2 linked regions of the Homo sapiens genome follow. The protein of the gene in region 2 interacts with the protein of the main gene of each other region in a pairwise test. Each region holds a gene or a part of one and is shown on either strand. Other genes may lie near its edges.

What was found. Proteins that work in one complex are often made in the same cells at the same time.
Region 1: the proteins of SHTN1 (region 2) and TFCP2 interact in binary tests that used the Homo sapiens proteins (3 or more experiments, as listed by UniProt).

Annotation. Positions count from the first base shown.
Region 1 is NC_000012.12:51,091,951-51,097,135, reverse strand, and holds the end of TFCP2 (alpha-globin transcription factor CP2), read left to right. Parts: intron 1-1,095; coding exon 1,096-1,147; intron 1,148-1,857; coding exon 1,858-1,895; 3' UTR 1,896-3,480; downstream 3,481-5,185.
Region 2 is NC_000010.11:116,884,998-116,890,192, forward strand, and holds part of SHTN1 (shootin-1), read right to left. Parts: intron 1,570-5,195; coding exon 1,347-1,569; 3' UTR 1-1,346. UniProt on the Homo sapiens protein: Involved in the generation of internal asymmetric signals required for neuronal polarization and neurite outgrowth.

The DNA of each region.
Region 1 (5,185 bases), on a different chromosome or scaffold from region 2:
ACAAAATTAGCCGGGTGTGGTGGCACGTGCCTATAATCCCACCTACTCAGGAGGCTGAGGCAGGAGAATCCCTTGAACCCAGGAGGCGGAGGTTGCGTGAGCCGAGATGGGGGCATTGCGCTCCAGCCTGGGCAACAAGAGCAAAACTCTGTCTCAGAAAAAAAAAAAAAAATTAAGAAAAAATTATTACAGGTATATCTATGAATGAGTTCGATGAAATTGTTTCGTTCCCTACCTGTACCCTTGCACATAATTATTTCCTTTGTAGCTGAATACTGCCTATTGATTGCTAGAATGACACAGGATTTCAGCATCAATTCCATTCTGTTTTTTTCCTCTAGATATAAATGCTGAGGGACTTGATTCCCATAAATTGATAGGAATGGATGGAATTTTGTAATGACAATGTCATTAGATTATACTTCAGAATTATATACCAGAAATTACATAGTGATATTACCAAAAAATCATTTTGAATCCTCTGTCTTACGACAATTTGTGATTAGGTTACTCTTTAATTCTGGTGAAAGGAAAGAGTTAGAAACCATGTGGCTCATAAAAGGGTCTATTGCTCAGTTATTAGCGTTCACCTTCGCCATTCCACTTTGCCACCTGAAGCTTTCACATCATGGGCCACCTTATTAGGATCCTGGGAGGGTGAAACTCATGCCTTTATCTTGGGAGAAGGGAGTTTATCCCTGGGAGAAGGGAGTTTGAGAAGGGAAAGTGGGGAAGGAAAATTAAAGAGGTTTTAGGAAAGAGCACATATGGGAGTTGAAGACACGGAAGTCAGTTCTCCTGTATGCACATATTTGTGTCCGTGTGCTCCTTGGAGAGTCTTGGGGTTAACCCAGGGAAATGCATACCAGGCTTTAAAACAACTCTTCCAATCTGCTTAGTTTTTTAATATTTAAAAACCAAATGGGAGGGGAGGAAAAAACTTTTATGATCCTAGATATTCAAGAAATACATTATTTGTGACCTGTAAAGCCTCCCATATAAATCCCTCTGGATGTGGGGTAGTCCTTAGGGACACAGGAATATAAAGGGGTTGTTTTTCATTTAAATAATCACAAATTTTCTTGCATTTTTCAGATGATACAGAACTTTCAGGAAGAAGCATGTTTTATTCTGGACACAATGAAAGGTAATAGTAAGACAAACATCTTTCTCTAAGCAGTTTAACAGCTTTACTACTACTAGGCAAAGTACATACTTCTTTGAGGAGAGATAGGAAAAGTAACCATATTTGGGTAAAGAAAGTGACAATATTAGAGATTGTTCCTTTTTTTAAGTTGGCTTTTTTTTTTTTTTTTTTTTTTGAAACAGAGTCTCGATCTGTTGCCCAGGCTGGAGTGCAGTGGCATGATCTCGGCTCACTACAACCTTCGCTTCCCAAGTTCAAGTGATTCTCCTCCCTCTGCCTCCCAAGTAGCTGGGATTACAGGCACGTGCCACCATGTCTGGCTAATTTTTGTATTTTTAGTAGAGATGGGTTTCACCTTGTTGGCCAGGCTGGTCTCGAACTCCTGACCTCAAGCGATCCACCCACCTTGGCCTCCCAAAGTGCTGGGATTACAGACATGAGCCACTGTGCCTGGCCCAGCTTTTTGCCATTCTCTTCCATCTTCCATTACAGATGAGGAAATTGAGGCATGTTGTTTTTATAATGCATTTTTTTTGAGACAGAATTTCGCTCTTGTTGCCCAAGCTGGAGTCCAGTGGCGTGATCTCAGCTCACTGCAACCTCCACCTCCCTTTTCTCCCCTTCTCACGAGAATCTTACCATACTTTTTTTCTCCTGCTGTGTTTTAGAGGTGACTAAAGATGATTCTCTCTCTCTCTTTTTTTTAACAGCAGAAACCAATGATAGCTATCATATCATACTGAAGTAGGAGTGCGGCGTTTCGTGCCCAGTGGCTGCTCCTTCCTTCACCTCTGAAAACGGCCCTCTTGAAGGGGGATATGAATGGAGATTTGAAGGTCTGCAAGAACCTGACTCGTCTGACTGTGTGTGGAGGAGTCCAGGCCATGGAGGCAGAATCCTGGCCCTCTGTGTTGGCCCAAGCTCTTGTGGTACACACAGATTACTGCCCAATATGCAGTTCTGCAGCTGTTTTAGTTAAATTTCTGGACCTTGTTGTTGTTAAATATCAGTAGAAACTCTACATAATTTAGAGTGTATGTAGGGCATAATGATGATGGGAATTGTGTGATGTTTAACAGGAAGATCTTAAATTTTGTGATATGGAGCCCTGTAATTTTTTTCTTATATAAAAATGGGTATCTATATTCATAAGACTAGGTCTTCAATCTCTTTGTACTGGTCTCAAATGTACTGGTATCTCTGCTTTTTGCCACAGTTTGTCCCTGAAAACTTTATCAGTGAGGAGAAATACAGAATTTTCCTTTTGGTTCCCCTGTAATACCACAACTAATAGTATTTTCAGCTAACATTTATTGACCAGGCAGTGTGATAAATTTTTTGAATGACCATCTTGTTTAACCCCCTAATCACACTATCTGAAGTAGGTGCTATAGTGACCCCCAACCGAAGATGAGGAAATGGAGACACACAGTGGCTAAGTAGCTTGCTAGGTGCCAGGAGCTGGCAGGCAGTGATGCTGAAATCCAAACCAGGCAATCTGGCCCTCCTTATTCACCCTCTCATACCACCAGTGCTACCCATTATAACCTGTGTTCACTTCGCTTATTACTGTGGCCCTTCTGGTGACTACAACATAACACTGAGTATGAACTGAGGAATTAACCACTGAAAGAGACAAAGCACACCTAAATAATGATGAACAAATCAAGACCTACAAGAAATGAACACATAGATGCTTTTTAAGTGTCATTAGTTATCGGAATCAAAGAATTTGAGGTGGTGACAACTGGGGATTATCTGTAACTCCCCAAATTTACTGTTCTTGAATGACATTCTCAAACTATTTATTAATGAGTTAGTCTCATCCCTGCTTTCTGTTTCCTCTCTCTGCATCTTCTCTTGGCATAGGAAGTTATTTTACTCATGCTATGTTTTTTAATAGAAGCTTTACAAAAAAAGATGCATTCCCTTCCTGTTCACACTCTTACCATGTTTTTGTTCTTCCTTAAGAATGATTGTGTGTGTGTGTGTGTGTGTGTGTAAGTGTGTAAGTGTAACATCATGGGTTTTCTTTCTTCACTTGTAAAGTTTTATCTAGAAATACTTTTACAGGTTATGTTGAGGTACACAAAGATAATGTTCTAAGATTGTGTATTGGATTTGGATTTGTGTGTGTGTGTGTGTGTGTGTGTGTTTAAAGCATTTGATAAGGTTTAAATGTTTTTTATACAGAGATTTTTGTTCATTAAACTCAATCTGCATCATGGTCTAATTTCTCTTGGTTTGAAACAAATTGAAAACTTTGAAACCAAAAAATTAAGTCAATGACTTGTTTAAAACTGACCTGAGCAACTTGTTATATTACACCAAAATGCTTCTTAGTGAATGATTACCAGGTGTCTCCATTTTGAGGAGGAGACGTATCTGGTTGTCTTATATTCCTAGTACTGGTTCTCAACCTCAGTTCTTTCCTCAGCAGGCTGCTATTGGTTTGGATTTTTTTTTTTTTTTTTTTTTTTTTTTTTATGTCTAGGTGTTTGGGTAGGAAAGTTGGACTAGATGCCTTTTTCTTTTTTTTTTTTTTTAATATAGAAATGAGTCTGGGCACCGTGGCTTATGCCTGTAATCCCAACAATTTGGGAGGCTGAGGCAAGCAGATCACTTGAGGCCTGGAGATTAAGACCAGCCTGGCCAACATGGTGAAACCCTGTCTCTACTAAAAATACAAAATTAGCTGGGCGTGGTGGCACACACCTGTAATCCCAGCTACTTGGGAGTCTAAGACATGAGAATTGCTTAAACCTGGGAGGTGGGGTTGCAATGAGTTGAGATCAGGCTGCTGCACTCCAGGCTGGGTGACAGAGCAAGACTGTCTCAAAAAAATTTTTTTTAATAAAATAAAATATAGAAATGAGGTCTCACTGTGTTGCCTGCCAGGTTGGTCTTGAACTCCTGGGCTCAAGTGATCCCCCGTCTCATCTTCCAAAGTGCTGGGAGTACAGGTGTGAGCCACCGTGCCTGGCCAAGACTAGGTGACTTTTTTGTTTTGAGACGGAGTCTCACTCTGTTGCCCAGGCTGGAGTTAAATGGCCTGATCTCAGCTCACTTGCAACCTCTGCCTCCCGGGTTCAAGCAATTCTCCTGCCTCAGCCTCCTGAGTAGCTGGGACTACAGGCACGGACCACCATGCCATGCTAATTTTTCTATTTTTAGTAGAGATGGGGTTTTACTATGTTGGCCAGGCTGGTCTTGAACTCCTGACCTCATGATCCACCCACCTCGGCCTCCCAAAGTGCTGGGATTACAGGTGTGAGCCACCGCACCTGGCCCAAGGCTAGGTGACTTTTAAGGTTTCTTCCAAATCTTTGCATTTGTGACTCTTACTGCAAATGATGCATAAAATTAAATATATAGATGAGGCACAGTGGCTCATGCCTGTAAGCCCAGCACTTTAGGAGGCCAAAATGGGAGGATCACTTTAAGCCAGGTCAGGAGTTCAAGACCAGCCTGGGCAACAAAGTGAGACCCGCCCCCCCATCTCTACAAAAAGTTAAAAAAATTAGCCAGGTATGGCAGTGATTACTTGAGCCTAGGGTTGGAGGCTGCAGTGAGCTGTGATCATGCCACTGCACTGTAGCTTAAGTGACGAAGTAAGACCCCCATCTCAAAGAAAACAAAACAAGAATTATATCTCCCTCTGTCACCCAGGCTGGAGTGCAGTGCCAGTTATAGCTCACTGCAGCCTCAAACTCCCAGGCTCAAGTGATCCTCCTGCCTCAGCCTCCCAAGTAGCTAGGACTACAGGCACACACCACGAAGCCCTGCTAATGTTTTTTTGTAGAGACAGGATCTTACCATGTTGCCAACCTAGTCTTGAACTCCTGGCCTCAAGCAGTCCTCCTGCCTTGGCCTCCCAAAGTGTTGAGATTACAGGCATGAGCCACCACGCCTGGCCTTTATTAATATATTGACTATAAATTACACTTAACTATTTTTACCTGAAGTCAGGGTTTTTTAGAGTAGTCTTCGAATTTATGGAAATGAACTTATACAACTTTGAAATTATAGATCCTTAAA
Region 2 (5,195 bases):
TATTGGGAGAACATGGAAACAGTCAAGCATAACGAACTTACAGAAAGATAATTATCTCCAAATTTAGGAAGTACATGTACCTGCCTACCCACCTCTTCAAGCCTATGCTTACCACACGTGCAAAAATACAATACAATACAACTACTGCAATTATTACTATCATTTTCTTTTGCCCTTAGGTGAAAAACACCTGACAGCTACATGCTGAGCCATGCTAACAAAACTAAACCTTTCACTTTCTTTAATAGTAAAATTACCATTACTGAATCATTGTCATAAAAAGTGCATTCAAGTACATTACCACTTATTTTAAATAAACACCAATTTTGAAACAATCAACTTTGAAAAGCTGCATAAGTTTTTTTTTTAATCCCTGATTACATTTCTATTTATTCACTGTGGTAGCCTGAAACATTGTATTTTTAGAGACTAACTACTGCTTAATTTCTTTTTTAAAAAAAACAACAACAAACCTGTGTAATATAGAACAGCAGTGAAGCAAGAAAAATGTGTGCTTGTCACTTATCTTCACCATACTGTACATAAGAACTCTGATAAAATATGGTACTTGTGCCACATTAGTATTTGGGAAAACATAATTAACTCATAGCACAGAGCACATGGTTTACCAACTTACTACTGTAAAATTCAAGGTTTGGACTTTCACCTCAGTTCTGTATTCAGGCTACCAGAGCATCCCCACGGAGGTCCTCGGGAGGCTTTGGACACAATCAATAGCATGTATTTTTCATCCAATAGTTAACAATGTGTGTAATTAACACTGACTATGGGACTACGAGTTTGATGCCAGCTCCTGAGTTTTCAGTTTATCTCAGTCTACTGTAGAAAATAACTTGTATGCCACAGTACCCAACAATTTCCATGCTGCTGCAGTTTCTCCATCAAGAGGATCAGACCCAAAACAGAAGCTTCTTTGGGGGCTTTTAAAATCACATTGGGTTGATCAGTTTTGTTTATCCGATTATATACAAGCACCTCAAACTTTCAGCATTCCATTTGATGAGTGGTATGCACATTTCCTAAAAAGGTATCAACATCTGAATTTTTTTGTAACCTTCTAAAAGAAGTCATACTTAATACAGTAACTAGGAAAAAAACCTCATCTTTATAAAGATCAAAAAACCAAAACCTACTAGGAATGTGTGTTTTGCTAAACAGCTTACTTATGTTTATAGTTGCTACTTACAAAAGTGACACCAGAAAAGAACCTGTATTCTGAATACAGTGACCAGAGCAGAATGTCTACAGCCCTTGCCAATATAACAACACTAATCATGTGCTTATTGAAAAGGACTTCCAAACATGTCAGGCTTCTGGTTTATGGATCAGCAGTTGGAGCTGTCTGTCTCTCTCACGTTTTCAATGCTGTCTTCTTTGTTTTCTGGTTGAATTTCGCCTTCATCCTCCTTGTGTTGAGTTGGATCTTTTTCAGCAACCTGGTCTTTGGTTTGGGGTTCATGTGTAGAAACAGGATCTAAAACTACAACTGGTTCGGCTTGTTTTTCACCGTCAATGTATTTTTTCCTGCATCCAATGCTACTGGGAGGCCTATGAGATGAAGAGTTAGACAAAAAAAGTAAAAAGCAGAGAGAGAAAATAGTTGTCTCTGATATTCTGGATTCAGACTAACATAAAACCCAAAATGTTCTAAGTCTAATCAACATGCATATAGTAGTCTTTGAGATGCCAGCCATTTAAAAGAAAAAATGAAGCTATCAGATTACACAGCTGATACTAGGAGCACAAGGCCAGAAGAAAGAAGGCAGAGAAAGAGCGATTAACTACAGAAGTGTTAAAAAGCCAAATGCACCTACCTGCTTAATTGCATTCTCTTCTCAGGAAGCGTAAAGCTCATGGACAAACTGTGAACTTCTCACAGCCTGCTGCCCAGACCCCCACCCGCCCTCACTTAGCTGGATGGAGCCAGTTAACTCCCTTCCCTCCTGTGTGTCCCTGGGTATGGCTGGTTGCAGGGTAGTGCTGAGGAGCCTGCAGGGACAAGGGGAGTAATCACCCCTCATCACTGATGGACAGGTGAGAGGCATGCTGACTGCTGCCATTACCAACTAGAGGAGACCTGGTCAGACTTCAGGAGGGGGTGGTGGTAGGACCAAGGGCGGAGAGAGAGCCAGAGTAGAAGCTAAAATGCTAAGTTACCATTAATGTTTCTAAAAGGAGAATCAGGTTTCTTGAGAAATTTCTTATGGAATTTCAGAGGCAGTTTTCCACAGACTCCTTCTCTCGTCTCTTCTGCTGCAAGAAGCTATGGCTTCTCAGGCTGAATGGGTGAGGATTTCATTATGGGAACAGATATCTCTGAAACACCCGAAGGTTCAGGCTGCTGAGCTGCGGCCTGAAGGTGGAGGCAGCTGCAGCAGGCAGGGCTGGGGCTTTCGGACTTTTCTGGTCTTTTTGGAAAATGCTAGGATCAGGCCTTTTTGTCCCTGAGAACTGGCTGTTAACCATGACCCGGCACACCACCATCCCACCTCTTGGTGTTCCGCCAGGTGCCAGTGAGCTGCCAGCCAGTGCCTGCCCACTGCTCTACCAGCCCCTCACCAGGAGTTGGTTTCTACTATTCTCTGACCCCTTCAGCAGGTCAGAGCTGGCAGGAGACACTCTTTTACCACCTAATACCTCTCCCTTGTTGGACTTACCACAATTGTTTCCTGTCTGTCTCTTCCAATAGCATGTAAACATCCACGAGGCAGGGACTGTTTAGCTTTACTCACAATTCTATCCCCAGCACCTAGCACAGATGCATTTGTGGACTAAACGAATGGGCAAATACTAATAAACTGAAGGGTTCAGAATGAAGGGGGAGAAATCAAGGTTTGGGTGTGAGTAGGTCTGGATGTCTCTCTTGCAACAAAAACAACAGAACAAATGATCAACTACTGAGCAAAAGTAACCTGCATGACCCGGTCACGGGCACAAAACCTCAAACCCAAAGACCACACTGCTTTTTTCACTTTCTGACCAGTACTGTAAGATCTGTCCAAATGTTTAAAAACCACTCCCTCTGGCTACTGGGTTATATTACCTATGTGTGGCTCGGTCATCATCCTAAGTGACAAACACTATGTCTTCCTTGGAGGTGGTAAAAACAAAAATAATCAGGAGCCTGGGGACAGGCTGTGCTGTAGTGAGGACAGATTCCTTTATTTTTGCCTGATTATGGCACCATGACATTGTCCATCTACCTTGGCCAAGGAACTACTTCTCCAGACATCTGCCGCTATGCTTTGGGAATCAGAATGGGGTGTAGTTTCTCCAGTGGTACCTGTTTTGACTCTCTCTGACCCACACAATATTTAAAAGCCTGTGATGGGAGAAGCAGAACAACTATGAGTAATATTAAGGATTGATCAGAGGAATCAGACCTTAGGGAATGAGAGGCACTAGTCATGCCGTCTGTGTAAATCTGCTGCTTCTGCGTCTGACACTGGGCCTGCAGTCAGCTGTTCTGACAGTTGGGAGGGAAGGCGGCTGTAAAGTGACAGAGACTGGGGACAAACTAGAGCTGCACCTATCTCTCTCTCACAAGCACCAATCTTGATGATGCAAGACAATCTGCAGAATAAGCAGGAGCCTTCCCCAAGGAGCTGCACATGCACCTGCCCCAGGATTTGGAAAAGCTGGAGGAGGAGATGTGGGGAGCTGGAGAAACTGTGGGCCAGTCACTGCCACATGCCAGTTAGGTGAGTCAGCACATCAGGAATGTCATGCACAAGCTATAACAGAGCCTGCCCTACACGGACCTTCCGAGGGTTAAAAAAAATTTTTTTAAGACAACTACTTCACTTCCACCTTCTAAATCTCATGCAGATTTATCTGTCGGCAACTCTAAACTGAAAACAAACAGGTGAGGAGATTCTAGGAAATAAAGCTGCAGCCCAGCTAAGGTTCCAGGGAAAGTCCCATCCAAGTCTGCAGATTGAGTCACCAGTACGAAGGTTTCACCATCTTGGGCCTGGGCCCACTCTTATGTAAGCCAGTCAAACTGCTTTCAGCATGCAAAGGAGGTAGTATTTCTCTCATTCTAGGTGAGCAACTTCCATCAACCCATACTAACCTTCATCACTTCTGTAGAACTACCATGGATGTTTCCATGCTCGTGTGTGTCTGTAGGTGAAGGGGTGGTGCACAGATCCTAGAAAAAGCTTTCTTCATCAGCTCAGGGCTAAAAATTTCCAGGAAGTGCTCTCTGGGCTCCACAGCAGCAATACATGGATGTTGATTGAACTGAAAACTCATAAACCTAGTATTGTCAGGCTGAAATTGTCCTGGAATTGTCTCAGTCCAAAGAACGATCTCCCTGTCCTGAAGCAAGCTTCTTGACTGCAGATTAATCTATTATTAAGTCACTTATAGGCTACAATTTGAGAACCCCTTTGTTATCACTGAACTAGGCGCAGTGGGCATTTTCTGAATCTAGGCATGGAGGGAGAGTGACTGGTTTCTCAAGGATAATGACCACTGCCTTAGAATCCCAGTGGAAGGTGGAAAGGGACTAGGGCAATCGTCTAGTCTGACCTGTCCTTTTACAGATGAGGATGATGGGGCATGAAGAGGGGAAGGAACTGGCCCGAAACCACACAGCTCATCAGTGGCAGAGTCAGAACAAGAGTCAGAAGCTCCTGTCTCCCTGTTTCTGCCTTTTCCATGACAGCATGCTGTTTCTCAAAGGCATCTTCTCCTAGAAACAGGAGGCTACAGGCTAGTTTTTGGCATGTTTACTGATTTCATTCTTTCCGAATCCGTTTCCATCTCCATCTTCCAGATCTGTAAATAAAGTCTATCCCTTCAAGCTATCCCTTAGTTTTAATTTTTCCCCTGTGGTTTGTAGCTCCTCCTGGCTTGACATCACTAGGTCCACTCTTGGCTCCCACGGGCAGCTGCCCAAGACTCCTTCTGGAATGAGAGTCCTTTCTTTCTCCTAGGCCTCATTCTACCTTCATTCCTATCGTATGGGAAGAGCCACAGAGCCGCATCAGTGATGGTGCCAAGAACCCAAGTTCTCACTCTAGTAGTCATGGTGGCAGGTTCTAGAGGGTTAAATATGAAGCTTCTCCCCAAGGTAGAAATCCCAGAAGCTCAAATGCAACACTTCAATGGGAATTGTAATATACTGTCATTCTGTTCAATTTTTTTTTCTACTTTAATGCAACCTC